Linked DNA regions of Homo sapiens. The protein of the gene in region 1 interacts with the protein of each later gene in a pairwise test. Each region holds a gene or a part of one and is shown on either strand. Other genes may lie near its edges.

The links.
Region 2: the proteins of MYCBP (region 1) and ARFGEF1 interact in binary tests that used the Homo sapiens proteins (3 or more experiments, as listed by UniProt).
Region 3: the proteins of MYCBP (region 1) and ARFGEF2 interact in binary tests that used the Homo sapiens proteins (3 or more experiments, as listed by UniProt).
Region 4: the proteins of MYCBP (region 1) and AKAP8 interact in binary tests that used the Homo sapiens proteins (3 or more experiments, as listed by UniProt).

Annotation. Positions count from the first base shown.
Region 1 is NC_000001.11:38,863,349-38,870,468, forward strand, and holds part of MYCBP (C-Myc-binding protein), read right to left. Parts: intron 4,263-7,120; coding exon 4,214-4,262; intron 3,662-4,213; coding exon 3,532-3,661; intron 1,367-3,531; coding exon 1,322-1,366; 3' UTR 1-1,321. UniProt on the Homo sapiens protein: May control the transcriptional activity of MYC. Stimulates the activation of E box-dependent transcription by MYC.
Region 2 is NC_000008.11:67,263,502-67,270,798, forward strand, and holds part of ARFGEF1 (brefeldin A-inhibited guanine nucleotide-exchange protein 1), read right to left. Parts: intron 3,942-7,297; coding exon 3,842-3,941; intron 3,730-3,841; coding exon 3,590-3,729; intron 3,484-3,589; coding exon 3,375-3,483; intron 2,707-3,374; coding exon 2,505-2,706; intron 1-2,504. UniProt on the Homo sapiens protein: Promotes guanine-nucleotide exchange on ARF1 and ARF3. Promotes the activation of ARF1/ARF3 through replacement of GDP with GTP. Involved in vesicular trafficking.
Region 3 is NC_000020.11:48,916,714-48,924,813, reverse strand, and holds the start of ARFGEF2 (brefeldin A-inhibited guanine nucleotide-exchange protein 2), read right to left. Parts: upstream 3,104-8,100; 5' UTR 2,925-3,103; coding exon 2,804-2,924; intron 1-2,803. UniProt on the Homo sapiens protein: Promotes guanine-nucleotide exchange on ARF1 and ARF3 and to a lower extent on ARF5 and ARF6. Promotes the activation of ARF1/ARF5/ARF6 through replacement of GDP with GTP. Involved in the regulation of Golgi vesicular transport.
Region 4 is NC_000019.10:15,376,532-15,383,867, reverse strand, and holds the start of AKAP8 (A-kinase anchor protein 8), read left to right. Parts: upstream 1-4,080; 5' UTR 4,081-4,136; coding exon 4,137-4,155; intron 4,156-6,853; coding exon 6,854-6,892; intron 6,893-7,336. Other genes in the region: AKAP8L (A-kinase anchor protein 8-like), read left to right, coding at 3,256-3,351, 3,438-3,746. UniProt on the Homo sapiens protein: Anchoring protein that mediates the subcellular compartmentation of cAMP-dependent protein kinase (PKA type II).

The DNA.
Region 1 (7,120 bases):
CAAAGATAGGTTCTCTAACAACAGGGAGAGAATATATGAAATAGGAATATGTCTATAAAACGACAGTCTACCAGTAAGGAAAATAAGTGATCCATAAAACAAAACATCTGACTGTAGGTCTACCCAAAGAAAGGAAAAAGGACTAACAAACAAGAATATAGTGCTTTACCATTTACAAATCTTTCACATACATTCTCATTTGACCCTCACAACAACCCTGTGAGGTAGGCATCACGGACATTCTACTCATTAAACAGATGAAGACAGTAAATCTCAGAGTAGTTCACTGATAATGCCCAAGGCTCTACAGTTAGTGAGTGATTTGTATTAATATCAGTCTTTGGCCTAAAAATTCAGCACCCCTCTTCCCCTTATACTTGTCCCACCTACTTCACAGGGATAATGAAGATAAAATGAATTCAAGGCTAGAAAAATACTTTGAGGGAGAAAAGCACTATATAATTATACCTACAAACTATGATTTTCCCCAATATATGGCTCATTCCTCTTCTCATCTCAGCTTGTGTGTGAACCCAGAGTTGTATATTGCCTCTGTCCTGTGCTCAGTAAGCAAATAAGGCAGGCAGGGGGTACAGTGTGATCCTGTTTAAAGTTACATAAATTACAATCAGGGTAACTGCTATTATTAGGCAAATTGAAAAACAGCACAGAAAGGCCAGTGTGCAACTAGGACCCACTAAAGCTCAGAGGAAAGCAATGCAAGATTATCAGACAGGCATGATTGCATAGAAGGAAAATGTGGTGTCAGAGTTCAAACTGGCACACACACACACAGTTATCTAAGGCAAAGTGGTGGCAAAGAAGTTATTTGTTCCATGTCACACAAACAAGAGCAGAAGATTCATGGGAACCCGTACAAAAGCATCTTGTGTCACACAGATCTCTCCAGCTGCCTATAGGGAATATACAGAACAGTGTCACCTTCAAAGAATGACTGTACCTGTGTTCATATCCTGAACTGCACCAAGGAATAGCTCCATGCTAAACTGTCTTGGCTAAAATACAACCAGTGCCATCATTCCTAATCAGACTAATAAACAGAATGTCTTTTAAGGTAATGAGTTAGATGGCTGTGTTTAGGTTTTGTTCAGGATTTACTTTGGATTCTCCTGCTTTAAGACCCAAAGAAAGTTATATTGAGTTTTTATTGATGATTCTATGTGTTTTTAACAGAGTGTGATAGGTGAATTAAACATATTAAAAGAGTTCTATAGCATCTGTTCAGAAAAGATTATATACTATACAAACTATTCAAGTCATACAAAACCATTTTTCATTGTCTTTCAAACTGAGAAGAATCCTATTCAGCACGCTTCTCCTCCTGAGGTGGTTCATACTGAGCAAGCTATGGGGCAAAGACAGAGGAATTTAGGTGAATTTTATTCTAAATTGAGTAAAAAATAGTAAAACAAGGTAACTGTTATATTCAACTTAGTTACTGTCAGTAAATTGTATTAATATCAGTTTCTATAACTATCCATTTTAAATCATTCAGTGATTTAAGATTTAATACAATCAAATCTAATGAAAGCCCTTTTTATATAAACCTTTAAAATTGCTTTGAAACTAAAATTTCATTCCAGTTCATGACTGCACTGTTCAAATACTTGATATGCAATAAACTATATCTTCCCAAAGATTCATTTGCTTATAAGGAACTTTCTTCCTCTCCAGCAAAAGTTTACTGAAAATACCCACTGAAAAGTAGATAAAGAGTTAAGTGACATGTCTTAACTTAACCAGCCAATAAACAACTACTAATGTCTTTGAGTTAAAAGGTTCCAAAGAGTTAACTAGCACTACACATTGTGGAATCTTGGATAATTTAAAATAACTGCATTTTCTTTTATGCTAAGTGTGGTTCCTTGCAAGAACACTAGGCTAACATTAGGGTTCTGCCAACTACCTGTTGGAGTTGAGAAGCTTATTAGACTTCACTGTGCTTTCGTTTCCTCACCTATAAAGTGGCTTGTGTACTTGTTTCACTTATCTCACAAAGTTGTTGAGAAGATAAAATATATTATGAGAAATACTTAGAGTAATGTAAAATACATTATGTGATTAAGAATGTGGTAAGACCTGAAAGACTTAAGAGTTGACTAATTTGAAGTTCATGAAAATTCTCACAGGACTTTGAAAAAAGAAAAAACTGGCTGGGTGAGGTGGCTCATGCCTATAATCCCAACACTTCGGGAGGCCAGGCCAGGAGGAACGTTTGAGTCATGAGTTTGAGACCAGCCAGGGCAACATAATGGGACCCCATTTCTACAAAAAGTTTAAAAATTAGCCGAGCATGGTGGCAAATGCCTGCAGTCCCAGCTACTCAGGAGGCAGAGGTGGGGGGATTACTTGAGCCTGGGAAGTCAAGGCTGCAGTGAGACATGACTGCACCACTGCACACAAGCCTGGGTAACAGAGAACCTGTCTCAAAAAAAGAAAGAAAAAACTTTAGCACTAGATAAAATTAAGTCCTAACAAATTTACAGAGGGCCGCTACATATGGCCTTGCAAACTATGAACCATACAAATTCTAAGAAGTGCCATTTACAAAGCAGTCGCCCCATATTGGCCTACTTAAAATCAACTGCTTAAGAACCTCAGAACTGACCATTTACTTATAAAGAACATTAACCAATATTCTCATCCTTTTAGTAATACAGGTTCCTAAGAACCTCTTTTTTTTTTTTTTTTTTTTTGAGACAGAGTTTCATTCTTGTTGCCCAGGCTGGAGTGCAGTGGCACAGTCTCGGCTCACTGCAACTTCCACCTCCCGGGTTCAAGCAATTCTCCTGCCTCAGCCTCCCAAGTAGCTGAGATTACAGGCATGCACCACCAAGCCCGGCTAATTTTGTATTTTCAGTAGAGACGGGGTTTCTCCATGCTGGCCAGGCTGATCTGGAACACCTGACCGCAGGTGATCTGCCCACCTCAGCCTCCCAAAGTGCTGGGATTATAGGCGTGAGCCACCGCACCCAGCCAGAACCTCTTCTTGACCACACTTTGCTTCTTTGCTTGTCCTATTTCCAGTATGTCTTGCGGTTTTCTTTTTTTTTTTTTAACCCCCCTAGATGAAGTCTTGTTCTGTCACCCAGGCTGGAGCACAGTGGCACGATCTTGGCTCACTGGAACTTCCATCTGCCGGGTTCAAGCGATTCTCCTGCCTCAGCCTCCCGAGTAGCTGGGATTATGGGCACATGCCACCATGCCCGGCTAATTTTTGTATTCTTAGTAGAGACAGGGTTTCACCATGTTGACCAGGCTGGTCTCGAACTCTTGACCTCGTGATCTACCCACCTCGGCCTCCCAAAGTGCTGGGATTACAGGCGTAAGCCACCGTGCCAGGCCCGTCTTGTGGTTTTCTTGACAGGGCATAACTTTGGCCTTACATTGTAATTAATTCAAATTGATATTCACCCACCTCCCTCCCCTCCTGTCCATTTCAGTGAGGTTTTCATCATACAATTATTACAGGTAAAATTATTTGAATATGAATTCTTTTTAAAAATTTACCTTTGCTTTCAGTTTTTTATTTTCTTCTACAATAGCTTCATACTTCTCTTTCATTTCGGCCAGTTCTAGGCGAAGCAGCTCTATTTCTGGATTTTCTGGAGTAGCAGCTCCTAAGTGATGCTTTAAAAAACTATTATCAATGTTAAGAACTTACTTCTTAGACATGAATGAAACTAATGAAATAGCACAGAGTAGTATCAATATCCCTGACCAGAGTCACCCACTTTACCACCAATATCTACCCAGAGATCACCATCCAAAAACTCAAGTGAAACTAACTTTCTTGGCCAGGTGCGGTTGCTCACGCCTGTAATCCCAGCACTTTGGGAGGCTGAGGTGGGCACATCACGAGGTCAGGAGTTTGAGACCAACGTGATGAACATAGTGAAACCCCGTCTCTACTAAAAATAAAAAAAATTAGCTGGGTGTGATGGTGGGCACCTGTAATCCCAGCTACTTGGGAGACGTGAGGCAGGAGAATCGCTTGAAGCCAGGAGGCGGAGGTTGCAGTAAGCCAAGATTGCGCCACTGCATTCCCCACCAGGTGACAGTACAAGACTCCGTCTCAAAAAAAAAAAAAAAAAAGTAACTTTCTCAATATTCAGAAGTATTTTAAAGGTTATTATCTATCTAAAAAAATAAGAGTTTCAAAATAAAGCCTTTTTCTGACTTGAAAGGATACTCCAAAGCACTGTTAGGTTTCTCTGGTTCTTCATATAAGGCTACCAACACTGCAAATCAAAAAGCAGAAAAAGCAACAATTGACGTATTAAATTTGAATGGCTGAAATTATGTTCCATTACCCAGTAAATATTAGGTGCCAACTATACGCTGAGCACATTGCAAAGACTATACAATGCTGAACAAGACAGACAAGGTCCCTGTTCTCAACAAATTTACAGTCAAGCATAAAAGATATGCAAGGAACTAGACAGAGGGTATCAAGCAGGAATACTGGATAATGGGTTGCAGTAGCACACTGGAAGAACACCTAAGCAAACCTAGGACATCAGGGAAGGCTTCCTAAAGGAAGGCAAAGACCTGATACCTAGGGGTTGAGTGTTTCAGATAAAATGGGAAGGCCCAGGAGCAAGAAAACAATGTATTGAGGAACTGAAAATTCAAGTATGGCTGGAGATGTAATTTGGCAGGAAAGGAAGCTGGAAAGGTGGTCATGGCCAGATTAGGGAGAGTCATGCAAATTTGGTTGGCACATAATTAAACAGTTTAAAGGAAGGGAGTGACAGGATCCACTCTTAACTGCTATGTGGACCAGCTGGAGTGGGACAAGGATAAAGACAGGAAGAACAGTTAAAAGGCTGATGTGGTAATCCAGTTTAAAAAGACAGCAACCTGCAGTAGAGTGATGGGAGTGAGAGAACAGTGAGAAGAAAGAAATTCGAGAATTTAGGAAAGAATCAACAGGACTATGGTAATTACCGGAAGAAGCTCTGAATTCAAAAATGGTCTTAAAAATTAAGTTTGTTTTGCTAAATAACCACCAACCAAAAACTTTACCAGTAGTCAACATGCTCAAATCAACATTAAAATAAGATATACTTGAGTGGTTTCATATCTAATCACTCATATGAGCACTGCCTTGCTCTTCATCTATGGAACAAATTCCTCCTAGAATTTACTACTTAGATAAAAAACTCTAAATCAGTGGTTGGCCTTTTTGTGCATGGAACCCTTTGAAAAATCTAATAAAAGCAAAAAAAGTAAACACACACAAAAAAAATGTGGCTGGGCGCAGTGGCTCACACCTGTAATCCCAGCACTTTGGGAGGCCAAGGCGGGCAGATCACGAAGTCAGGAGATCAAGACCATCCTGGCTAACACAGTGAAACCCCGTCTCTACTAAAAAATACAAAAAATGAGCCAGGCGTGGTGGCGGGCGGCTGTAGTCCCAGCTACTCAGGAGGCTGAGGCAGGAGAATGGCGTCAACCCAGGAGGCGGAGCTTGCAGTGAGCCGAGATCGTGCCACTGCACTCCAGCCTGGGCGATGGAGCAAGACTCTGTCTCAAAAACAAAAAAACAAAACAAACAAACAAAAAAACAGTGATAGATATCTAGACCCCAAGTTAAGTCCTGTTGTAAACCAACTTACATACTTCCCTTTTGTTCTTTTAGAGTTTTAATAACTTACCAAAATAATATACAGTATGAAAAAATCACTATTTTTTGAGAAATTCATTTGGTTTTTTTTTTTTGTTTTTTTTTTTGAGATAGAGTTTTGCTCTTGTTGCCCAGGCTGGAGTGCAATGGCATAATCTTGGCTCACCACAACCCCCGCCTCCCAGGTTCAAGCGATTCTCCTGCCTCAGCCTCTCTAGTAGCTGGGATAACAGGCATGTGCCACCATGCCCGGCTAATTTTGTATTTTTAGTAGAGACGGGGTTTCTCTGTGTTGGTCAGGCTAGTCTCGAACTCCCAGCCTCAGGTGATCCACCCACCTCAGCCTCCCAAAGTTCTGGGATTACAGGTGTGAGCCACCACACCTGGCCAAATCCTCATTTTATAAGACATGAATATTAATACTCTACTCTCTCCTCCTCTTATTCCCCCACCCCATTTCTTTCAGCTTCTCATTTGTCACTGGTACTTGAAAGGTTGATAGTTGCAGAAGATACTGTAAATACAAAGTTTCCTGTGCTGTTCTATAGATGAAATGCACTTCCTTGTAATCAGACAAGAACTCTATACCCAATCATGCTCCCCTTTTTGCCTTCGCAGCCAGGATTTTTAGAGGTTGATATAGCGCTCAAAATAGCTAAAATGCTTCAGCTTCCAAATGATTTATCATCTTTAGCCATCCTTTCATAGTGTTTTAATGTTATAAACTATTTCAAATCATCTTGGAAATAAGCTGTAAAAATTTAGGCCAAAGTGGCTCATTCCTGAAATTCCAGCACTTTGAGAGGCCAAGACAGGAGGATTGCTTGAGCCCAGGAGTTTGAGATCAACCTGGGCAACACCCCAACTCTACAAAAAAAAAAAAAAATTGGCCAGGCATGATGGCTCACGCCTATAATCCCAGCACTTTGGTAGGCCGAGGCAGGCAGATCATGAGGTCAAGAGATTGAGACCATCCTGGCTAACATGGTGAAACCCCGTCTCTACTAAAAATACAAAAAAAATTAGCCGGGCATGGTGGCAGGCACCTGTAGTCCCAGCTACTTGGGAGGCTGAGGCAGGAGAATGGTGTGAACCCGGGAGGCGGAGCTTGCAGTGAGCAGAGATCGCACCACTGCACTCCAGCCTGGGTGACAGAGCAAGACTCCGTCTCAAAAAAAAAAAAAAAAAAAAATTAAAAATCAGCCGGACATGGTGGTGCGTGCCTGTAGTCTCAGCTACTTGGGTGCCTGAGGTGGGAGAATTGCTTGAACCTGGGAGATTAAGACTGCACTGAGACATGACTGCACCACTGCACTCCAGTCTGGGCGACAGAGACCTTGTCTCGAAAAAATATATATATGTAAATTAAATTTGTGAGGCTGGGCACAGTGGGTCACGCCTGTAACGTCAACACTTGGGGAAGCTAAGGCAGAAGGATCACTTGAGGCCAGGCATTCCTGGGTGACAGAG
Region 2 (7,297 bases), on another chromosome or scaffold:
TAGATCCAACCCAATGCTCTAATCTTACCTCCTGTTATTCCCCCTCCACTCTAGCCTGCCATGCTGAACAAGTGCTCAGATGTCCTCCCTTTCCTCTGCTGCTGCACATGCCATTCTCTTAGTCTGGGATGCTCTTCCTAAAGGTTCCCTTGTCAAGTTCTCATCCAACCATAACCACTTAACATTCATAAAATGAAACACTTTTCACTAAGCTAAACATAATCCCCCTACCCCTAGAAGCTCTCACTGTAATGGAAGAAACACAATTTTAAAGAATTATAATACTAAAACTGTGACAAATAGATGTATTCACAAGGTAAGAAAATAACACAGTAGAAGTAACTAACTTAGATGGTCATAATATATTTCCTGGGAAAGGTGACTCTGGAACTATTTTGAAGAACAATTATATCTTTTATAAACAATAAGAAAAAACATGCAAGAGAGGAAGAAGCCATACTAAAACACAAAAGCACAAGACAGTATTATATAATAAATAGTTCTGCATTGTTGGAAAGTGAGGTGAGACAGAAAAGTGGCAGGAAATGAAGCTTAGAGTCCAGCAGATCCAAATCATGAAGGTATTATCATACCTTCAAAGCAGCTTTGGTTTTATTCTCTAAGAGAGGGAAAAAATAGACTTTCATTCAAGAAAGGTTACTCTAGTTAAGCATGGGAAAAGACTGAAGAATGAACAAAACCAAAGAAAAAGGTAAGCCAATTGAAAGATTATACTAGTTGAGGAAATAAATAATCATGATTTGATTTGCAAGAATAGTGGTGGGAGATCGAGAAAAGAGTACAGATTGCAGGGATATTAGGAAGTATAATCAACAAGTCTTAGTGACAGATTAGATTCGAGAATCTAATCCTTTGAGGGGAAAATCTAAGCTAACTCCCAGGATTTTAGCTTATAAATTTAGTAGCATGCTGGGGTTACTACCATAAATAAGAAATACAAAAATAACAGGCTTCTCTATTTGTCTTTTGTTTTGGGTAGGAGAACTAAGGGGCTGATGTTGGAAAAGGGCTGAGGAACAGAACGCTGGCAATGCTAAGATGCACGCAGGAAGAAAGAAAAAACAGCCCACAAGACTGAGACGGCATAGTCAAAAAGGTAGGAGAGAAACAGGATAGACTGGTGTCATGAAACAGTTGTAGACAAGTATACTAGGAATACAGTTCCATGAAAGCATTCTCATCAATGGCTGTATTAAGTAGAAAGCAAGTCTAGCTGCTGAGAGAAGGACTGGGAGACTTCCACTTCGAAGCCCTCTGACTACTCCTTCTCATTTCTCAAGTACTTCAAAATAAGTACCTTGGCAGTACTTACTCTGTACGACACTCTTTTATAAACATTTACACAGTACTATTTTTAAAAATTGCTCATGTTTAGAATGCAATCTTGAATACAAGGACCAATGCCTTCATGGTGCTTGGCAATAGTCCCAAGTACCAAATATGTGTTTACTGGGTGACCAGCAGAATTTCAATATGCATATTTGTTTACACACACTAGACCAAGAGCCTCTCAGAAGGAAGGGCTTTTCCATGTATCTAGTTTCCCCAGGATCTTGCATAATATCTGGAAAGATGAGACTTTAATAAATATTGACTGAACAATTAGAATTAATGCAGTAGTGACAGCTATTTCCTGAGGCAATTTGGTAAGATTTTGTAATTTTAAAATAGAATATGTGTACATTTTTGTTGAACTGTTTTTCATATTAACACTGGAGAAAAAAGACACCTGAACATTCACTAAAAGGCACTGCTTAAGTATCAGGAAGAAATGCTTTACAGAAGTAGCAAACCAAGTAAGCACACAGGGGAATTTTTAAGTTTATAATAGTTAGATTCATGGAGACGGCAAACAATTTCATTTTTCCTTATGGCATCTCTTTGAAAAAAAGAGATGGGCAACAAGAGAAAGGAAGGCAGCATGGTGACATTCACAAAGGAAATAGTCCAGGAGCAGGCAGGTATCACAAAGCTTAGTGGGAAAACTGACTTCACAAGATTAGGATCCGGTACACTAGCCAGGCTGGAAGAGAGGTGATCACCTCATCAACATATAAAAATGAAATCAATAACAAGAATAGTACATTTGTAAGCCAGCTGGAAAAAATGTAAGACCTATAAAGGAGTACTGATAGCTATTAGAAGTTTCATATTTTAAATGTTTTGAGTTGTCACATGATTAGAAAATATAATGGGGGGATGTCATGAGCTAAACAGTGCAAAATTGCACAGATGATACCCATCAACAGCACTTATAATATGGTGACAAATTAATTTATATGACAAGAGTGGTTGGGCATTACAGGAATCTAGTTGGGCTAGACTGCAATGAACAAGGGGGGCTGAATAGGAGCCTCGTGAATTAGATCCATGAGAACTATCCTCCATTTTACTCATTATAAGGTGATAAACCCACGGCAGGGGTGGCACTATACTGGCAGAGAGATATTCAATAACATTTCTCCTTAAGCTATGACACTTACAAATCTATCCCTTGTTCTATTATTTCTTTTTGTTGCTTTAGGACCTCAAATTGTTCTGGATTATCAGTGCCAGACATCTGTGTACTGTAGCTGCCTATTCCTGATGATGATGTTGACTCCAGGGAATTTAAACTTCCGTATCTGTTTATTGTCTCAGGGTGTTTGATTTCACTCATCTCTTGCTCTGAGGGTTTTTCCTGACCTGAAAGAAGAAAAATTGATAGAGTACATTATTCTATCAAAGAAAAAAAAAAGTGTAAGGGCAAACAAATTCTTGAATAAGGCAAGGCGTTTCAATGTTGCTTAGATATCTATTTAATACAAAATAACTATTAGGTAACATAGTAAACAACATACTTTGATATTAAAACACACTGTAATTTGTACGTGTATAGTCTGCACCATTAGGAGGAGTTCTTTTTGCAGTTGCAGTGCTGAGTATCCACTGGATTTCTGCTCTCAGCTCACTCCTCATGAGGAATTGTTTTCGATAATACCAGTGTAGCCCTGCAGCTATGAGTTTTTCTCTGAGTGAGGGTAAACATCAAACACAGATGAACAATTCAACCTTCTTAAAACATACTGCCTTTTATATGTTTCCTCTATAATTATAATACAAGAAAGTTGCATAAATATGCTTCATTTTACATAATCAAAATATTTCTAAGAAGATTTAGAAAAAAATAGTTTGGATAACTAAGTTAAAAATCTCACAATTTTAAAGCTAGACATTTAACTCACAGAGAATGTTTCCTCATCAGTTAAATGAATAAATATGTCATGAAATTGGTTTAACAGCAGCTGCAACTATCCTCCAAAGTATTATTCACTTAAAATGACAAAGAATTACAGCTCAAAATATCACCTTACCAAGAGTTGTCTGGGAGTTGGGATTCACATACTGATCCTTACTCCATTCAACCATACACTTCAAAATCGACACTAAGCATTCTAAACCTTTTTTCCTCAGGCTCAATTCCTACAAAGTAATTCAAAAACAAAATTTTTTTTAAAGGTCTTTTAAGGAAAACACATGACTCTTTCCTGGTAAAGTTTAAATTTGAAAATGTTTTTATAGTTCTTACCTGAACATTACTCATACCAAGTTCTTGACTGCCCCTTCCTTGAGCAATTTTTGATAGATCATTTACTAGTCTTTCAAATATATTGGCTGCATTTAAGTCACAGTCATAGTTTACATAAATATCCACTACACTCTGAGCATCTGTAACAATATAACATTAATTTCAACAAAGTACATCTAGGATATGAGTACATTTGGCCTTTTAAATATCTAATAATAAGAAAGAGATAATAAAAAGGATAATTTAAAATACCTGCACAAATCCTCGTCAGTGTCTGAATAACCATCCATTTGTGATCAAATGAGCTGGTAGAAGTTTCCAAAATGTATAAGAAAATTTCTTTAAAGAACACCTGTGATTAGGAGAAAACTTCTGTTTAAAATATTGTTTAGAATTCATATGTGTGATCACTTTTTAAACATCCCAGAGCTATAGAGCAGGTATTAGGACCCAGGCTCTTATGGAGTTCAACTCCTTTTGAGTTCCATCTCTGAATCCTCAGGACTAAAATATCTTGGGTAAGTGACTTAAACTTGCCCTTCTAGTTATCAGTACTGCAATTCACATTGATGTGTTTTGTTCTCAACACAGCTGCTACAAAAGAAATATGCAAAGATTTAGAGTTCCTCTAGGTGATAATTTCTTTAACATTTTTACAGAATATAACTTACGCTTTTTTAATCCCCCTCCAAAAGCGTAATTTATACTTCTGTTCATCAGTTATATTTTTCAGAGACGTTCTAGTACTGAGAGGCCTAACTGTTCGTAGATTTAAATGTAACTGATACTCTAATCAACACAATAAAAACAATCTAAGTCTCATACGGTTTTATTTTTCTAATTACTCACAAAAGTGAAAATCTCTACTGTTTGAAAACTACATATGAACTATTTCTCACTACTCTTTACACCAAATAATCAAGCAGTGAGTTAATCAACCTAATGAGATAAATTTCAATTTAACAGATAAGAATTTTCAGATTTAAATGTATTCTATAAAAGTGACTTTAAGAAGGAATGACTGAAACAACCAACATATTAACATTTATGAAACATATGCATTATGAACCCAGAAAATCACATTTATAGTATCTCCCCCTAACTGGATTAGGTACCCCTGTAATGTGATTTTCTTTCACAAAACTCAGCATATTTCTATTTACTTGTTTAATATCAGTATCTCCTATAGACTGTAAGCTTGAAGACAGTAATGACCAGGTCTTTCTTGATAAAGATCACGTCCATATTGCAGGGCACATAGTAGGTGTTCAATAAATACTTATGGCAACATGGCCACAATTCCCAAAAACTGCATCAAAGTACCCCAGAATGCTGTAGCAAACTCATGAGGGTGCCCTGAAAAAATTCTGAGGCAAAATTCAGAGGGAGATACATCTGTTGGATACCTCAAAAGATTGCTCATGGTTTCAAATAAATCACACTACATTCCCTTCAATGACATAATTATCTCCGCAAAGCTGGGTTTTGGTAGTTGCTATGATAAAAAACCAAGTACTGAATGAAAATCAATGAAGTACAGGAATGAGGGGGACAGTATTCAATTCCAAGATCTAAGAAGCTGTGTGCAGTTTCTAATAGGCACACGCATCCCAGTGGTAAGTAATTGCGGTAAAGAATAAAATAAAAACATTATTTTTCTTTTACTTTATGCATACTATTGTCTTTGAAATACATAGTAGGCTGTGAAGACAAATATCCATTAAGTTGTTTGGCCCTGCCTGCTTAATAAATAGAACATAGAACTGGAGGTATTCCTCTGGCCAAAGTGCAACTTTCATGAAAAGTCAGACTTGTGAATCAAAAACTTTTGGGATCCTCTGATTGACAAAATAAATAATATAGACTGGAAGAGAGAGGGAAGAAAAAATTTTAGCTACTATCAATGGTTTATCAAATTGCACTAATAAGCAAAAGTCTATTGCTGTAATATAAGATATTATGCCTATCATAATAGGGGCTCTAAAAAAATCAACCTTTTAATAATTTATCGAGGACCTATAATGTATGTATGTGGAACAACAGCTATATCTTAAGTATGCTGTCTTCACATATGTTCTCCTGAAAAGTTGTACATAAACTGTATCTTCTGGAATAGATATATAATTTAAGACCCATGAAAAAATCACATCACAGAAACTCTGAAGTGAATATTCTCATAAAATGAATCTTCATGTAAAAACAATCTTAATTTTGTTTTGCAAATTTAGGTTTTCATAGCTGGGCTTTCTCCACGTTCAGCTTTTTTTTTTTTTTTTTTTGAGATGGAGTTTCGCTCTTGTTGACCAGGCTGGAGTGCAATGGCGCGATCTTAGCTCACTGCAACCTCGGCCTCCCAGGTTCAAGCGATTGTCCTGCCTCTGCTCCCAAGTAGCTGGGATTACAGGCATGCACCACCACACCCGGCTAATTTTGTATTTTTAGTAGAGATGGGGTTTCTCCATGTTGGTCAGGCTAGTCTCGAACTCCTGACCTCAGGTGATCCACCCGCCTCGGCCTCCCAAAGTGCTGGGATTACAGGTGTGAGCCACTGTGCCCGGTGCTCAACTCATTTATAATTTGAGTGTGTATAACATTTTTGAAAGTATATCTATATTTATCTCATTTTACCCTCATTATCGCCCCCTGAGGGACAATAAGGAGTGAAATAAACCTAATTTTTAAAAATTAGAATATTATAATAATTTTGTAATGAGAATCTGACATCTACAAATTGACAAGAAATTTCTTAAAGTTTTTCCTTTCAAATTCATTTTTGCAAAGTTGAATTTGCTGTGCAAAAATAGTAATCTCAACTTAAATAATTTTTGATATCTAGATCTAAGAATTTATATTTTACTGTCGGTAAACAGTACCTACAGAAGCAGAATCTCAGTGTCCAAAAAAATCTGTAATTGGTTACATAAAGTATTACAAAATTTTCTAATGCCAACTTAAATGTCTCATCATCAGATGAAAGACTTCTGGTTTTTTACAAAAGCAAAAGTTCTAAAAGTTTTTTTAACTGTCTTTTATTTATAGTTCCTACAGATAATGGGGAAAAACTATCTAAAAACGGCAACTCTTCCTAGTTAAACGCCTTGTATTATCTTAACAGACATATGGCAAACTCTTAAAACTTGACATCATACATCATATAGGCACCAAAAATGGTTTCCTGTCCAAAAATATGGCCCAAATTAAAAAGCTTTTCACTTAAAATACCAAGGCCTAATTCTGTTTCATTCTCATAACAATGCTCTAAATCAATCTTGATAGCTATTACAGAACATTAACATTAAAGGATAATATGACTATTTTAGCCATTTCGAAATTCTGGAAAAATAATTTATCCTTTCTAACAAGCTAGTGAATTATGAGTCTTGAGTTAGGATTAAATATAAAATTAACAAAAATTAAAATATAACCTGTATATCAAACATAATATGAAGGTAAAAACTGACAACATAAAAATGAGTATTTCAAAACCATACAACATCACAACCAAAACAACATTTCAACAAATAACAAATTGAAAAAAGCATTCATTAAATTGGTAAAACATAAAGTACTATTTTTAAGTTTTATTTGAAGATGAAAACAAAAAATCAGAAACTGGTACACCTTAAAAAAAAAAAAAAAAAAAACCACATAAAGCTGGGCGCAGTGGCTCACACCTATGCTCCCAGCACTTTGGGAGGCGGACGCGGA
Region 3 (8,100 bases), on another chromosome or scaffold:
AGGCAGGAGGTTTGAACACAGAAGTCTAGGGTCCCAAAGAATACACTCCTAGCTAACATCTACACTATACAGTCCCTGCAGCCCTGATCCTCTCCCCTAATATGCTACAGCTGGTGGAATCATATCACAGAAGCTGTTTCCTGTAAATGCTCTCTATCATCCAAGCATTTCAACTTTGAGCCGTCATTTACAGTTCCTCTTATCACAATTAACAACAATCTATACATGGTAATCTCTAAAATACCACATAGCTGCTCCTTATACACTGGCTCGTTTCAGCCTTTTTTTTTTTTTTTTTTTTTGAGACAGAGTCTTGTTTTGTCGCCCAGGCTGGAGTGCAGTGGCGCAATCTCAGCTCACTGCAAGCTCCACCTCCTGGGTTCACGCCATTCTCCTGCCTCAGCCTCCCGAGTAGGTGGGACTACAGGTGCCCGCCACAGCGCCCAGCTAATTTTTTTTGTTATTTTTAGTAGAGGCGGGGTTTCACCGTGTTAGCCAGGATGGTTTCGATCTCCTGACCTCGTGATCTGCCTGCCTCAGCCTCCTAAAGTGCTGGGATTACAGGCGTGAGCCACCGCACCTGGCCCCAAATTTCTCTTCTTAAATGGGACTACTGGACACAAGACTGGGCCTTGAGAGACAGAGAGAAATATCACCAGGCATTCTGCTATGTGTTCTACTCTAAGTAAAAGCAGTCATTTCTATTTAACAGCAATGACACACAATTATTCTCTTAAAAAAGATGGTCACTTAACAATATGCATACGTTCCCTTATGACAGTTCCTATTATGCCATTGGCACAACCCCAATTTGTGATTCATATAACCTGTAGTCAAATTACTTCCTATCTAGGCCATTTTTTACAATTCACTACTAAAAACTGAAAACATGCATTCCACTACTTGTGTTAGGAAAACTTGAACTTCTGAACAAAGATACGATCCGAAAATATCTATTAAATTCTCAGCGTTAATGGCCCTTCATGACCCAGATGAAAATTTTATAAGTAGGTTCCAATAATATGATGCACACTTTGGTGAAAATTTTATGTTAAGAAGTTTTCTGAAGAAAAAATAAAAACTCTTCTGCCAAATAACTATTCTGAAACCTCCACAACAATATCGAGAAGATAGAGTCCAGGCAGATTTCAACGTGGAGTTATAAATACCAGGCTCTTGCCTAACAAACTGCTTTGCAGTGCTTATCCCACATTGCTGATAAAATACCCAACAGCCTTGGTTATTGGAAGAGAAAAGCTTTAAAAATCTACATCTCAGTAAATTCCTTCCACTGATCCTGAATTTCACGGACTAGCAACTGTTTCCAGATTATCTAGACTACCACCTCTGCATCAATAGTTGGCCCCTGAGGGAGTCTCAGGGCCCTCTGAAAATCTGATGAAAGCCAGGGACCTTCTTTCCAGGGAAGTGCAAAGTTCACCAGCCTATTTCTAAATGCCAAAAGAACACTACTCTATACTTTGTAGCAAATGAAAGGAGAAAGGTGATAACAATCTCAAACTATGTGACTAAAAATCAAACTTTCCATTTGCTCATTTTGTTAGGAAAAACAGGCCTTTACAGATTCCAAACCAAAGACGTTGGGGCAGTGAATTAGCTTGAAAACAGCTCTGGTCAAATGCATGGATTCTCCCACCAAGAACTCTCTTCTGAAACTCCATATGGTGGATAGTTCTTGCCTTTCAGTATTCAGCTCAAGTGTCACCCTCTTGGAAAAGATTACTTTCCTGACCACCTGATTACTTTTCCTCTTGGAAAAGATTACTTTCCTGACCATGGAAAGCAGTCCTCAAGCCCTCTTTATCACATCTTGCTGTTTTATTTTCAAAATAGTATTTATCAGTATTCCAAAATACCTCACCTATTTTCTTAATTAATTATTTTGTCTCCTCTATTCGAGTATAAGCTCCATAGGGGTAAGGACCATGTCCGTCTTGTTCCCCACTGAATTCTCAGTACCTGGTATGCAGTGGGCACTTGATAAATATTTGTTAAATGATTAAAACTGAAAGATAGGATAGTGATTTTGCTATCAATTATCAAGCCTTTAACTATTAGTTAGAATTCTCCCTCTTTCCATAATCTGAGGGTCCATTCAATCAGCAAATATTTATCGAGCACCTACTGTGCGCCAGGCACTGTTGCAAGCGCAAGGGATACAGCAATGAATAAGTCAGACAAGTATCTTCGCGCTGAAGACCTTGTATTTTAGTGGACTGCTAGGAATAAGCAGATGTCTTGCTCACTACAATGCCTGGGAGATCCAGAACACCTTCTACAATCCTTCCTTGAGGGAAAGAGCTATGGGAGATCCCCAAACCAAAGGAAAACATTCTCCAACGGGCACTTCCAAAACAAGAATCAGGGGTTTCCCTAAACCAGTTGGACGGCTCTTCCTACATGCTCTGTTCACCTAGGGGAACCCCAATCAGCAGAGCTCAGGTAACGAAAAAACTTGGGGCAAGGGCTACTGTTTCTAGGACTTGGAGGTGGTGAGGGGAGGAACCAGGAAACAGGGCGACAAGGAATCGTGGCAAAAGCCCTGAGCTGGAACCCTGAGGAACAAGCTCTGGTTGTCACCAACTTGCTAGGTGACCTTGGGCCAGTCCCGAGCTGCCCGGGCAACACTTCCTCCGGGGGTATAATGAGGAGGAGGCCGGAAGGGTGGAATTCGGGATCGGGGGGAAGCGGAGGCCAGGAGGCCGGGCCAAGGCCGAGTAGGATAGGGCAACGGCCGACGTGCTGAGGCCAGCGCGGGGCAGGGCGGGAGCGGCTCACCCACCGAGCGCCACCTGGCAGGCCCTGCGCAGCTGGGAGTGCTGGGGCCGCTTCACCTCCTTGTCGGCTAGGATCTTCTCCAGGGCCCGGGACACGAACATGCTCTTGGTCTGGCTCTCCTGCATGGCCCCGGCCCGGCGGGGGCTGACGGCCCCGCGGGCGGGCGGCGTGAGCGAGATGGCGAGCTAGGCTGCGGGCCCGGCGTCCCGGCCGGCACCGGCCGCGTCCGTCCGCGCCGCCCCGTCAGGAAGCGACACCTCGGCCCCACGGCGCCGCCATGTTGGAGCGCGTCACGTGACCACGTGACTGGCGAGGCCGCTACGGCCGCCTAGCGTCCGTCGGCCCCGTGACCCCCAGCGGGGCGGAGCCTAAGGCTGGGGGCGGAGCGGAGTCAGGTGGGCGAGAGACAGAAGGCGAGGGTGGAGGGTGGAAGAAGAGAAGGTGGGGAGGGGAGTGGGCATGGGCGAAGGGTATAGGGGACGCGGGGGCTAAAGAAAGGCGAAAGCGGGGAGAGGTGGTGATGGAGATGAGAGGAGAGAAGCGCAAGGTAACGGGAGGTGAAGGGGAGCACGAGAATGGAGATGACGTGGGTAAGAGAGGAGATGAGGAAAGGAAGGGGAACGAGAGGATTGGCAAAAAAGAACGGTGACAAGGAGAGATGATAAAGGGGCAGGAGGAGAAGGCGAGTAGGAAAGAAAAGAGGTGAGGGAGCGAGGACTGGAAGCTGGTGAATGAATGAGAAGTGATCGGGAGTAAGGGGCGTCAGGAGGAAGGAGGAAGGGCGATGAGAAGGCGGCGGCGGAGGGGAAGGGGGGAGGCCCGGCGCGGCGGCTCACGCCTCTAATCCCAGCGCTTCCGGAGGCCAAGGCGGGAGCATCGCTTGAGCCCAGGAGTTCGAGACCAGCCTGGGCAACATAGGGAGACCCTTTCTCTACAAAATAAAAAGTAAAACAGCCGGGCCTGGTGGCGCTGCTTGTGGTCCCAGCTACTGGGGAGGCTGAGGTGGGAGGATCGCTTGAGCCTCGGAGGTTGAGGCCGCAGTGAGCTGTGATGGCACCACTGCACTCCAGCCTGGGCCACAGAAGGAGACCCTGTCTCAAAAAACAAACAAACAAAAAGGAGGTGAGTTAGTTATGGAGGAGATGAGGTGGTGTGGGAAGAGGTGAGAGGGAGGCACAGAGGTAAAAGAAAAAGGAGAAAGACAGGAGGGAGAGGGGAAGTGAAAAGGAAAGAGAGGTAGAAATGAGAGGAGGGGAAAGAGTAGGAGAAAGGGTGAAGGGAGAGGAGGTAGGAAGGGGAGCTGTCAGGAAGAACAGAAAAGAAAGAAAAAGATGAGAGTAACAAGTTAGGAAAACAGGAAAGAGATGGAAAAAGGAATGGTGTAGGAAGGAGGTGAAGGGGAAGGAGGTGAGGAAGAGTGGAAAGAACATGCTGGGAGAATAGGAAATGGAAGGGGTGGAGGGAGAGGGGAGGTGAAAGGAAGACAGAGAGGGAGAGAGAGAAGGTGTGTTTATGTCTATTCTCCACAAGCAGGGTTTCACCACAGCCACTGGCAAGATACACACATCCATATGACCCTCCTGTCACAGCAGCAGTGACCTTGCAGTTCAGTGAACTTCTGTTTATTGAGTGTCGCAGCTGTGCATAGTATACCAGGAAGCACTGACCTCTCTCTGTAGTTTATCCTGTTATAAACCTGTGAACCCTCACAGTGCAGTGAACTGGACCTGGGCTTTGGGAGTCAGGGGAAGAAACCCAGATGGCCAGTGTCACACAGCCTGCAAATGAGTGCTGGGGGACAGATACTCTGGCCCCAAGGCAGCTTCCACTCCATTCCACAATGATGCTATCACAGCAACCATTAGTGGTGTCCCCTGGGCCCCTTCCCCCAAGGGCAGCCATGGGCTTATGCAAAGACAGTTGTCTTCCTTGGAAACCTCAGAGGCACAGACATCCCAGGCAGGCATGCTCCAGTGCTCGGGTCTTAGCTCAGACGTCTCTGGGAAGCCTTCCCTGACCTGTCTCAAGTAGCCCCCTCTCTCCCTAGCTGATGTTTTCCACAGCACTTTCTGAGCTTTTGTACGTGTTGACTATTTGTTGTCTCACTAAAGCACGGTTGCAGAGGGGCAGGCCATATCCCCAGGGCCCGGTCTACAGTCACGTTGAATATTTCATGGCCTTAAATTCTGCAAGTTCCACTGCTTGTAATGCGATTTCGCAGTCACTCCCAGCAAGAGGTAGAGTTTGTTTCTCCACCAGCCTGAACCTAGACTAGCCTTGTGGCTGGTCTTGACCAATAGAATGTGACAGAAAAGAGGCTGCACAAGTCCCAGAGCATCAACAGCCCTGGCTCACTTCTTCCTTTACTGCCTGGGAATGCTGAATGACACTCAGAAGCAGCCCTGGGCAGGTCAGTGGCTCATGCCTGTAATTCCAACACTGGGAGGCTGAAGTAGGAGGATCACTTGAGCCCAGGAGTTCGAGACCAGCCTGGGCAACATATCAAGACCCTGATGCTACAAAAAATTTAAAAAATTATCCAGGAATAGTGATGCCTGCCTGTAGTCCCAGCTACTTGGAGGGCTGAGGTGGGAAGATTGCTTGAGCCCAGGAGGTGGAGGCTGTAGTGAGCCGTGACTGCCCCTCTGCCCTCCAGCCTGGGAGACAGAGCAAGACTCTGTCTCAAACAACAACAACAATAATAACAACAAAATGGTAGCAGCCCCAGAAGAAAGAGCACGTGGATAGGGAGCCCAGTCATTGCAGCTCTCCCAGCCGACCCACCAGCTGAATACAGCAGCACAAGTGACTAGTGAGACCAGCAGAAAAACTGCCCAGCTGAGCCACAGAATAGCAGAAAACAAAAAATCATTACTTTATGCCACTACATTCTGGGGTCTTGCTTGTTACACAGCAATAGATCACTGAGACACACCTCAATCCTTATGTGTTGAATGAATGAATGAATGAATGAAATTCTCTAGAGTACAGTGCAGTCTGCTGAGTAACATGTTTTGATCCCACCCCACTCCCCCCAACACACACACACAGCAAGGCCAGACTATGTCACTCCCCTGCCGAAAATCCAACAGAGGCTCCCTATTGCCCTTGGAATTGAGTCCAAGTTCAGTATCATACTGTGGCCAACAAGGTGTGATAGAGGCCCTGCCATTTTCTCTGAGCTCATCTCCTTCCTGCTTTTCTTCAGGACTCTGGCCACTCTGGGCTCCTTTTTGTTCCCATCAAGGGCTTGTCTTACATTTTTCTGTCCCTCTTAATCAGTGCTTCTCCATGAAGGCAGTACCACCCCCAGACGCATTTTGAAATTTTGTTGGGGGGATATTTCTGTTGTCGTAATAGAGGGAACAGGAATGCTAGATAACATCCTGCAGAGAGCTGAACAATCCTATGTAACAAACAATTCAATGTATGCCACATGGCCAGACACTCCTGGAGATGAAAAACTTATTGATAATGATCTGAGCCTAGAATCTAAATCTGCTTTACATATAAAATGTTTTTTGCTGTAGTTTTTTTGTTTGTTTGTTTGTTTGTTTTGAGATGGAGTCTCGCACTGTCGCCTAGGCTGAAGTGCAGTGGTGTGATCTCCACTCACTGCAACCTCTGCCTCCCAGGTTCAAGCGATTCTCCTGCCTCAGCCTCCTGAGTAGCTGGGATTACAGGCACCCGCCACCACGCCTGGCTAATTTTATTTGTATTTTTAGTAGAGACGAGGTTTCACTATGTTGGCCAGGCTGGTCTCCAACTCCTGACCTCAAGTGATCTGCCCGCCTTGGCCTCCCAAAGTGCTGGGATTACAGGCGTGAGCCACCATGCCCGGCCCTTGTGTAGATTTAATATCACCACATTTTCCAGAAATGCAAATATCATTGCAATTCAAGGGAAATATATATGTATATGTATATGTATATGTATATATACATATGTATTTTGAGACAAGGTTTCACTCCATCACCCAGGCTGGAGTGCAGTGGTGTGATCGAAGCATGCAACACCATGCCCAGCTAATTTGAAAAAATATTTTTGTAGAGATGGGGGTCTCCCTATGTTGTCCCTGCTGGTCTGGAACTTCTGGCTGAAGCGATCCTCCCACCTTTGCCTCCCAAAGTGCTGGGATTACAGATGTGTGCCACCATGCCTGGCTAATTTTACAATTTTTTTTTTTGAGGCAGAGTCTCACTCTGTTGCCCAGGCTGGAGTGCAGTGGTGTGATCATGGCTCACTGCAGCCTCCACCTCTTGGGCTCAAATGATCCTCCAAATTCAGCCTCCAGAGTAGCTGGGACTACAGGTGTGTGCCACCGTACCTGACTAATTGTTAAATATTTTTGTGGAGATAGGGTCTCCCTGTGTTGCCCAGGTTGGTCTCAAACTCCTGGTCTCAAGCGATCCTCCTACCTCCACCTTCCAAAGTGCTGGGATTACAGGAGTAAGCCAGCACACCTGGCCAGAAAAATGTATTTTGTCTGGAACTTTACCAAATATCATTTACCACTTCAAAGCCACATTGCTGTCATTTACACCAGCTATGGTATCTGATTTGCTGCTAGGGCACTCCAATCAGCCTGCACATATGGCTGTGGCAATTCCAGGGGATCCCACTTTTAGGTTCCAGCATCCGCCTGCTTCATTACACCTTCTAGTGTAATTGTATCTGAGCATTTATCTATTGAAATAAAATTTGCAAATTATACATTGCATTCCTTTTGTTTCACCTTCGTAGTCTTATTAAAACTGTGTGTGGGAAGATTTTATTACCTATGAATTTCATTTCAGAACAGCTAACAAAGGCCTTGCAGTTATAAAAGGGGGTGTGTAGTATCTGCTAGGGTTGGAAAGCACTGATGGCTGCCCCCTTCCCACCACTCTGCCCTCAACTCAATGTCACCCACAAGGTCACCAACCTCCCAGTTTTATCCCTCCTACCTCCACTACTTGCTTCCATATCATCTTTTGTTAGTTGCACTGAACTGAATTTTAAATGATGGTGTTTATTTATCTGTATATTAGTTATCTGTTGCTGCATGATAAATGACCTGACACTTAGCAGCTTAAAAGCAAACATTTCTTATCTCACAGTTTCTGTGGGTCAGGAATTTGGGAGCAGCATGGGTGTTTCTGGATCAGGATCTGTTGAGATTGCTGTTGAGCTGTCATCTGGGGCTGCAGTCAGATGAGGCTCAACTGGGGCTGGAGGATCAACTTCCAAAGAGGCTCCCTCTCATGGGACAGAGGCCTCAGTTCCACTCCTCTCGGTAGAGCTGCTTGCATGTGCTCATGC
Region 4 (7,336 bases), on another chromosome or scaffold:
AAACAAAACAAAAACCAGTTCTCTCCAAATTAATATAGACAGCACATTTCTAGTCAAAAATATCAGTCGGGGAGTAGGACTGAATGAAATGAAATTATTTTAAAGTTTTACATTGTAAAATTCAGTCTAACAATAGCTGAGAGATTGATTTCAGAAATACTAAAACTTACTACAAAGCTGCTGCAATTAAAAAACAAAAAAAGTGATAATTAGCACAGTAATGAAACAGTGGAACCAGAATAGAGAGTCTAGCAAAAGATCTCAGTATATTTCAGACTTAGTAATTTGTTAAAGTTAGTACAGATATTTTATCTGAAACCTTAGGGCCAGAAGCCTCAGAATTAATTTTTCAGCTTCAGAAAACCAATATGCAAGGCTGGGGGCAGTGGCTCACACCTGCAATCCCAGCACTTTGGGAGGCTTAGGTGGGATTGCTTGAGCCCAGGAGTTCCTGACCATAGTGAGATCTCGTCTCTACAAAAAATAAAAAATTAGCCAAGCATGGTGGTGAGTGCCTATAGTCCCAGCTACTCAAGAGGCTAGCATGGGAAGATCACTTGAGCCCAGGAGTTTGAGGCTGCAGTGAGCCGTGATCACACAATGGCAGTGCAGCCTGGGCAACAGAGTGAGACTCCTATCTCTAAAATAAAATAAAAAGAAAGACAATATGGTATTAGCACTAACCTCTCCAACAGGATCTGGGGAAAGCGCCTTGTAGTTGAGTCACAAATAATTCTTCACATGACTTACATATAAATGAAAAATGTAATGTCAGTTCACATTTAGCCACCAAATGAATTTTGGGGGAAGACTTGTTTTCTAGAGCCTTTTGGATTTCCAGTTTATAGATAAGGGATGGTAGACCTATATGCCAATTTGGTAGGGAAATAAATGGTGTGTTTTGTACATTTCTGGAAAAGAAAATTTTGGACCCTCTACCTCATAACATATACAGATTGAGTTCATCCGTCATCTGAAAATCCGAAATGCTCCGAAATCCAAAACCTTTTTCTTTAAGAAAAAAGAATTGAGTCTTGCCATGTTGTGCAGGATGGAGTGCAGTGGCTGGTCGCAAGTGAAATCATTGCACACTATAGCCTTGAACTCCTGAACTTGAGCAATCCTCCTGCATCAGCCTCATGAGAGTAGCTGAGACTACAGGCACGAGACACTGTGCCCAGTAAAATCTGACTTTTTCAGCACAGACATGACAAAGTAAATGCTCATTGAAGCATTTCAGATTTTGGGTTTTTGGAGTAGGGATGCTCAACTGGTAAGTATAATGCAAATCAAAATCTGAAAGACTTCTGGTCATAAGCACTTTGAATAAGGGATACTCAATCTGTATCAAATTCTAGAAAATTTGGCTGGGCGTGGTGGCTCACGCCTGTAATCACAGCACTTTGGGAAGCCGAGATGGGTGGAGGTCCTGAGCTCAGGAGCTCAAGACCAGTCTGGGCAACATAGGAAAACCCTGTATCTACTAAAAATACAAAAAAGTAGCTGGGTGTGGTGGTGCGTGCCCGTAGTCCTAGCTACTCAGGAGGCTGAGGCATGAGAATTGCCTAAACCTGGGAGGCGGAGGTTGCAGTGAACTGAGAGCCCCTGCACTCCAGCCTGGGCGACAGAGCGAGACTGTCTTAAAAAAAAAAAAAAAAAATTTAAATGTGAAAAATGAAAACCAAGATCAGAAAATAGTTAGAAAATTATAAACTGTGGGCGGGTGTTCCAGTGTGCTTACCAGAGCACTCACTCGCCGGTGGGCAGGGAAATGCCGTGGGAGGCAGCAGCACAGATTCTTCTGTCTTTTATCCACAGCAAAAATACCCAACAGTGACAACATCCAGTGCTGATGGGCAGGCAGGAGGACCAGGTCATTGTTTTAACACAGGTGGAAGAAGCATGACTTGCAAATGTTCTGCAGTTAATTGGGCACTATCACTTTGAAACCAAACCTGGTTAGAATGAAAAGCACCAGCATGGAAGTGTACAAGTTTATTCTAGTGTTGCTGGGTTATTGTGGAGAAGATCTGGAAGCAACATAAATGTGCCTCACTTGGGAGAATTTATGGTGTGGTTATCTGGGCATCTAGAACCAGGAGGATAAACTGTTGGCAAGTGAGAGTCACTGGGGGAACGGTCTATAGTAGTATCCTAATTGTGTATCTTTAGTTTATTGTGAGCATGTATGATGTCTGTTAATATTTTCCTCCAGTAGTAGAGAAAACGTGCTAAGGAAAAAAAAAAATGAAGATGGAGAGAGTAGAAACAGCAAGTGAGAAGGCTTTCTGAAACATGTAAATGGAGTGGGAAGGACTCAATGGGCTCTCCCACCCCACCAAAAATATCCTTCTTTTACCTTATGGTTTTTATAATGATCAAAGTGAGATTTGCCTGTACTCCCACCATGAGATGGCCCAGCATATTGATGGAAATCCTTCCAGACAAAATGGCTCTGGCATGCTCTGCAGACAGTACTATATTATACACCTTTCTTATGCCAGTGCAGAGATGAGCCCGATTTGAAGGGCTGCATGATGTTCTTTTGAATGTACGATTTATTTAACCTCTTCTGCACTGAGGAACGTTTAGGTGTTTTCCCATTTTTCACCACTACAATCAGTGTGCACGCATGTTTCCAGTTCTTAAATTTAGGATACGTTCTGGGAAGGGATTAATGAGACAGATTTTTACTTTTCATACATTGTGTCAAACTGCTTTCCAAAAAATACGGAAACAGTTGATCCTCCCACCAGCAGAGAAGACTCTCTTCACCCTTGCATGACTGGGAATAATTCTTCATTCTTGGAATTCTGTGGGTTAAAAAAGACGTTTCATTAAATATCTGTTCCTGTTTTTATATCTTCCCCGTTGGCCCCAAAGTGCTCCTTGCCTATTAGCCTAGTTGGCACCTTGTTACAGGTTGCACCCACCTTTGGCTCTTAGTTTCTTAATTGTTCACTGCTTATAGCTTTTTTGTAAGCAAATCAGATTTCTGTAATACAGCCGTAAAGTTAGAGATATATAGATCTGTATTTTTATTTACCTACAGTAAGTGTGGTGTGGAAGGAGAGGGAATTTGAACAAAGATCAGATAGGTTGTGGTTCCATGCTTGTGGAGTGGCCCTCCGTTGGTGGGGCTGGAAGTGCGTGGGTGCAGGGGCGGGGTGGGGTCCCTCTAAGCTGGCAGGGTCGGGGCAGCAACTTGTAGGGCACTCAGAGCAGCCTCTCCAGCTCCTTCTGCCCTGCCCGCAGCTCATGATGGAGCAGTCCAAGAAGTCCTCCCTCATGGTGGCCCGCAGTATTCTCAACAACAAGCTCATCAGCAAGAAGCTGGAGCGCTACCTGAAGGTGAGGCACTGGTCCGGGCCTGCCCTGTCCCCAGCTTAGTCCCCGCCTGTGCTCCCTCCCTTCAGTGTCCGCGCCCCTCCCCACAGGGCGAGAACCCTTTCACCGACAGCCCCGAGGAGGAGAAGGAGCAGGAGGAGGCTGAGGGCGGTGCCCTGGACGAGGGGGCGCAGGGCGAAGCGGCAGGGATCTCGGAGGGCGCAGAGGGCGTGCCGGCGCAGCCTCCCGTGCCCCCAGAGCCAGCCCCCGGGGCCGTGTCGCCGCCACCGCCGCCGCCCCCAGAGGAGGAGGAGGAGGGCGCCGTGCCCTTGCTGGGAGGGGCGCTGCAACGCCAGATCCGCGGCATCCCGGGCCTCGACGTGGAGGACGACGAGGAGGGCGGCGGGGGCGCCCCGTGACCCGAGCTCGGGGCGGGCGGAGCCCGCGTGGCCGAAGCTGGAAACCAAACCTAATAAAGTTTTCCCATCCCACCTCCGGGTTTCTCTGTTACTGTGCCGCGCGGGCGGGGCGGGGTGGGCAGAGGGGCGGGGTGCGCATGCGCGCGGGCCGGGCCGTCGGGCACCGCGGTGGGACCACAACTCCCATTAGGCCACGGAGCTGGATCGTAGCAGCCCGAAAGGCCAGCTGGGACGGCGAGGGCGGGCCCTCGTGAAGACCAGCCAATGGGGGCGCGCGGAAGTAGTGACGTGTGCGCCTGGTCTTCCAGTAGTCGATGGCGGAGGTGCGCTGAACGCATGCGTGCTGTGGTCGCCTAGTAAACGGGGCTGCTGGTGGGCCGCGTCGAAGACATGGACCAGGGCTACGGAGGTTTGTGTTGGCTGCTGGGTGCGGAGCGGGGAGGGAAGGCTCTGTGCGGGCGACGCAGCCGCTGCGCAGACTGCCGCCGGCCGGGCCTTCGTCCCGAGCGTGGTTGCCCCAGCTGGGCCCTCCGGAGAGGCGGCCAGGGCGCGCGCGCGCCGCTCATTGGGCTTTGGCGCCGTCGCTCCCGGGGCTCTGCGTGCGGATTGGCCGCCAGGCCCCGAGGAGGCGGGCGGGACTCGGGGTTGGGGCAGACGCCGCGGTGGGCTTCGTGGGGGCGTCTTAGACAGTGTGGGCCGTTTTTGCCCCTCACCTTCGGCGGAGTCCTTCCGGCCCCCAGCGACCCCGGGGTTTGCACTCCCGGCTTCCTCTTCCGAAGACGCCACAAAATGGCGGCGCTAGGGGGGCGGAGCTACAGCGTGGGGTTGTGAGGTCGGACCCGGGGAGCTGGGTCTGGGGCCGCGGGCGGACCGCGGGGGCCGCCTCTCTCCCGACCTGCCCTAGGCCCGCGGGGCCGTGTAGGGTCTCCGCTGGGCTCACGTGGCCCAGGGCGCCTGTCCCGGAAGCCGTCGGGCTGCGCGGGGTCGGGCCTTTAGTCCCCGGTGCAGCGCGGTGGGGCCGAGTGCTGCCGGCGCGAGAGTCAGCCTCGCCGGGCTCCAGCTCTGTACCCGGCGCGTGCTGGCTTGGGACAGGATGGTGAGGGGCAGATGCTGAGTGTTCGTATAAAGCTGGAAACCTGATGTGCCCTGGGGCTGGTGACATTGGCAGTTCTCCTTTAGGCAGTCTGTTGTGGTGGCCTGGAGGGGCCGAGGGGCTGTGCAGGAGGGAACGTGTCCTTTCCCCACTAGGATTTAGCGCTTGGCCTGCAGTAGGGCCGATCTTCTCGAGCTGCCTGCTCCCTGCTTCTGGAATCAGAGCCTTTTGGGAGCAAAGTTTGCCCACAGGGGATAGTTGGGACATGCTGGGTGGAGCTCGACTGGTTGTAGAGAAGCTAGTGGTCTGATCCTGGCTGCAGGAGCTCGAGAAGTTGTCGATCTTGAGAAGTGGCAGGGCAAAAGTATCCCAGCACCAGAAATTGCAGAGAGAGGTTTCGGTCCTGAGGCGGCAGCGTGCGCGGTGTGCTTTGGTGTCTTCCGGGTCCTAGCGAAGGCTCAGCCTGGCTCTCCTGGTCTTCCGCAGCCTGGGTAGATTTCACCATTCTTTCCCTTCTTTCCCATCAGATCTTTTCTGCAGGTATTGTATTCCTTCTTTTCATTCTTAGTTTGGAGAGGTTTTTTTTACCCCCTCTTCCTACCTGCCGAAAACCTTTCAGACACACTGGAGATAGTTAAGCTTCCCTGATTTCTTGTGTTTCCGGGAGCGTTTTAAGGTTAATAGTGCGTGCCACTTACACTAGAGCTTCACAGAGAAGCAGTCTCTCGAGGTTGGTTACTTGCTGTTGGAATCTGCAGTCTGCCTTTCTGCTGCACGGATGCGAATTTAGAAGGTTTTGCGGTATGACGGAGGGGAAGGCGTAGCATAGCAGAGGGCAAAACTCAGCAGTATGACTGGGTCAAGTCTCGTAACCCATGAGCCTAGCTCCCTTGTCTCTGAATGGCATTCCGGACAACAGGGTTTGCTGGGTGCTTGCGGTGTATCGGCACGCACTAGGCACTTAGCCGGGGGCGGGGGAGTTGTTCTGGTGAGGGAGACATGGATATGTTCCTGCCTCATCAAAGTGAAGTCATTTAACAGGCATGGTGGCCACCCGCGCGCAGCTCAGTGCTGGGCCCCAGGGACACAGAAATAAAGAGAACACAGTTCCCATTCTCCTTCCTGGAGGGACCAGACAGATGCCATAGTGGGCGGGGGGTGTGGAGGGGTGAAGAGTGCTGTCTGATGCCTTAGGGCCAGGCGAAGGCTCTGGGACTTAAAGGTCCAGGGGATCCGTGGAGGCCTTAAAAGTGGCAGGAAGGGCCTGGCGCGGTGACTCACGCCTGTAATCCCAGCACTTTGGGAGGCCGAGGCTGGCGGATCACGAGGTCAGGAGATCGAGACCATCCTGGCTAACATGGTGAAACCCCGTCTCTACTAAAAACACAAAAAATTAGGCGGGCGTGGTGGCAGGCGCCTGTAGTCCCAGCTACTCGGGAGGCTGAGGCAGGAGAATGGCGTGAACCCAGGAGGCGGAGCTTGCAGTGAGCCGAGATCGCGGCACTGCGCTCTAACCTGGGCAACAGAGCAAGACCCCGCCTCAAAAAAACAAAAAGTGGCAGGAAGTGCAGCTTAGAAAGATGCAATTTATGTCACTAAATTCCCATGCTTGTTTTCAGTTACGAAGTACTTGTGATGGCACTCTGAACTGGTTTCCTAGCTGTGTGGTGGGTGGGGGAACGTGTCCTCATGCTGAGTGGATTGTCTTGTGTTAGCCTCAGTTGTGGATGAAATCTTGGAGAGGTGAGGTCCTTGGCCAAGGTCCCTCTGCAGGGCGGAGCTGACTTCCAAGCCCACTTCCCACCCTTCTTTTTCTGCTTTGATCTCAGCCAGGTGGAATGCGATGACGCCATTAGCCAGTTGTGTGATGGCTTTTTTTTGGTGGGGTGGGGGGGAGTCTTCCTTCTTCTAAGGCTGGCACTGAACTGTAAGGAGATCCCTTTAGGAGTACCCCCAAAAGGACCCGTTCTCTGGTGTGACAAATAGAATTTTAACTCACGGGGTCTTCTTGCAGGCTACGGGGCGTGGAGTGCTGGACCTGCCAACACCCAGGGTAAGTGGGCTCTGCTTTGCGGGTGAGGCGTGGGCTTCCCCTAACTCAAGGCCCTAGCATGGCAGAGCTGAACTTGGGTCAAGGGAGAGTAGTAGCCCAGGGGTCAGCAAACTTTGTGTAAAAGATCAGATAGTGAATATCTTTGTGGCTTTATGGGCTCCACAGTCTCTGTAGCAGGAAAGCAGTCATAAATGTGTGAAAGAGTGGATGGGACAATGCCAGTAGTTACTTACAGACAATACAATTTGAAGTTCCTAATTTTTGCGTGTTAGTGAATACTCTATTTTGGCAAAATATTTTTGTTATTCTGAGTAAATAGCTGAGGGTATATCCGAGGTGTTTTTTCTCTATAATTACCAGACTTTTTAGTACAGCTTTAGATTGAGTAGTGGAGTTTCATACGCCCACCCACCTCCACTCAGGTGTACTGAGTGTACACTACAC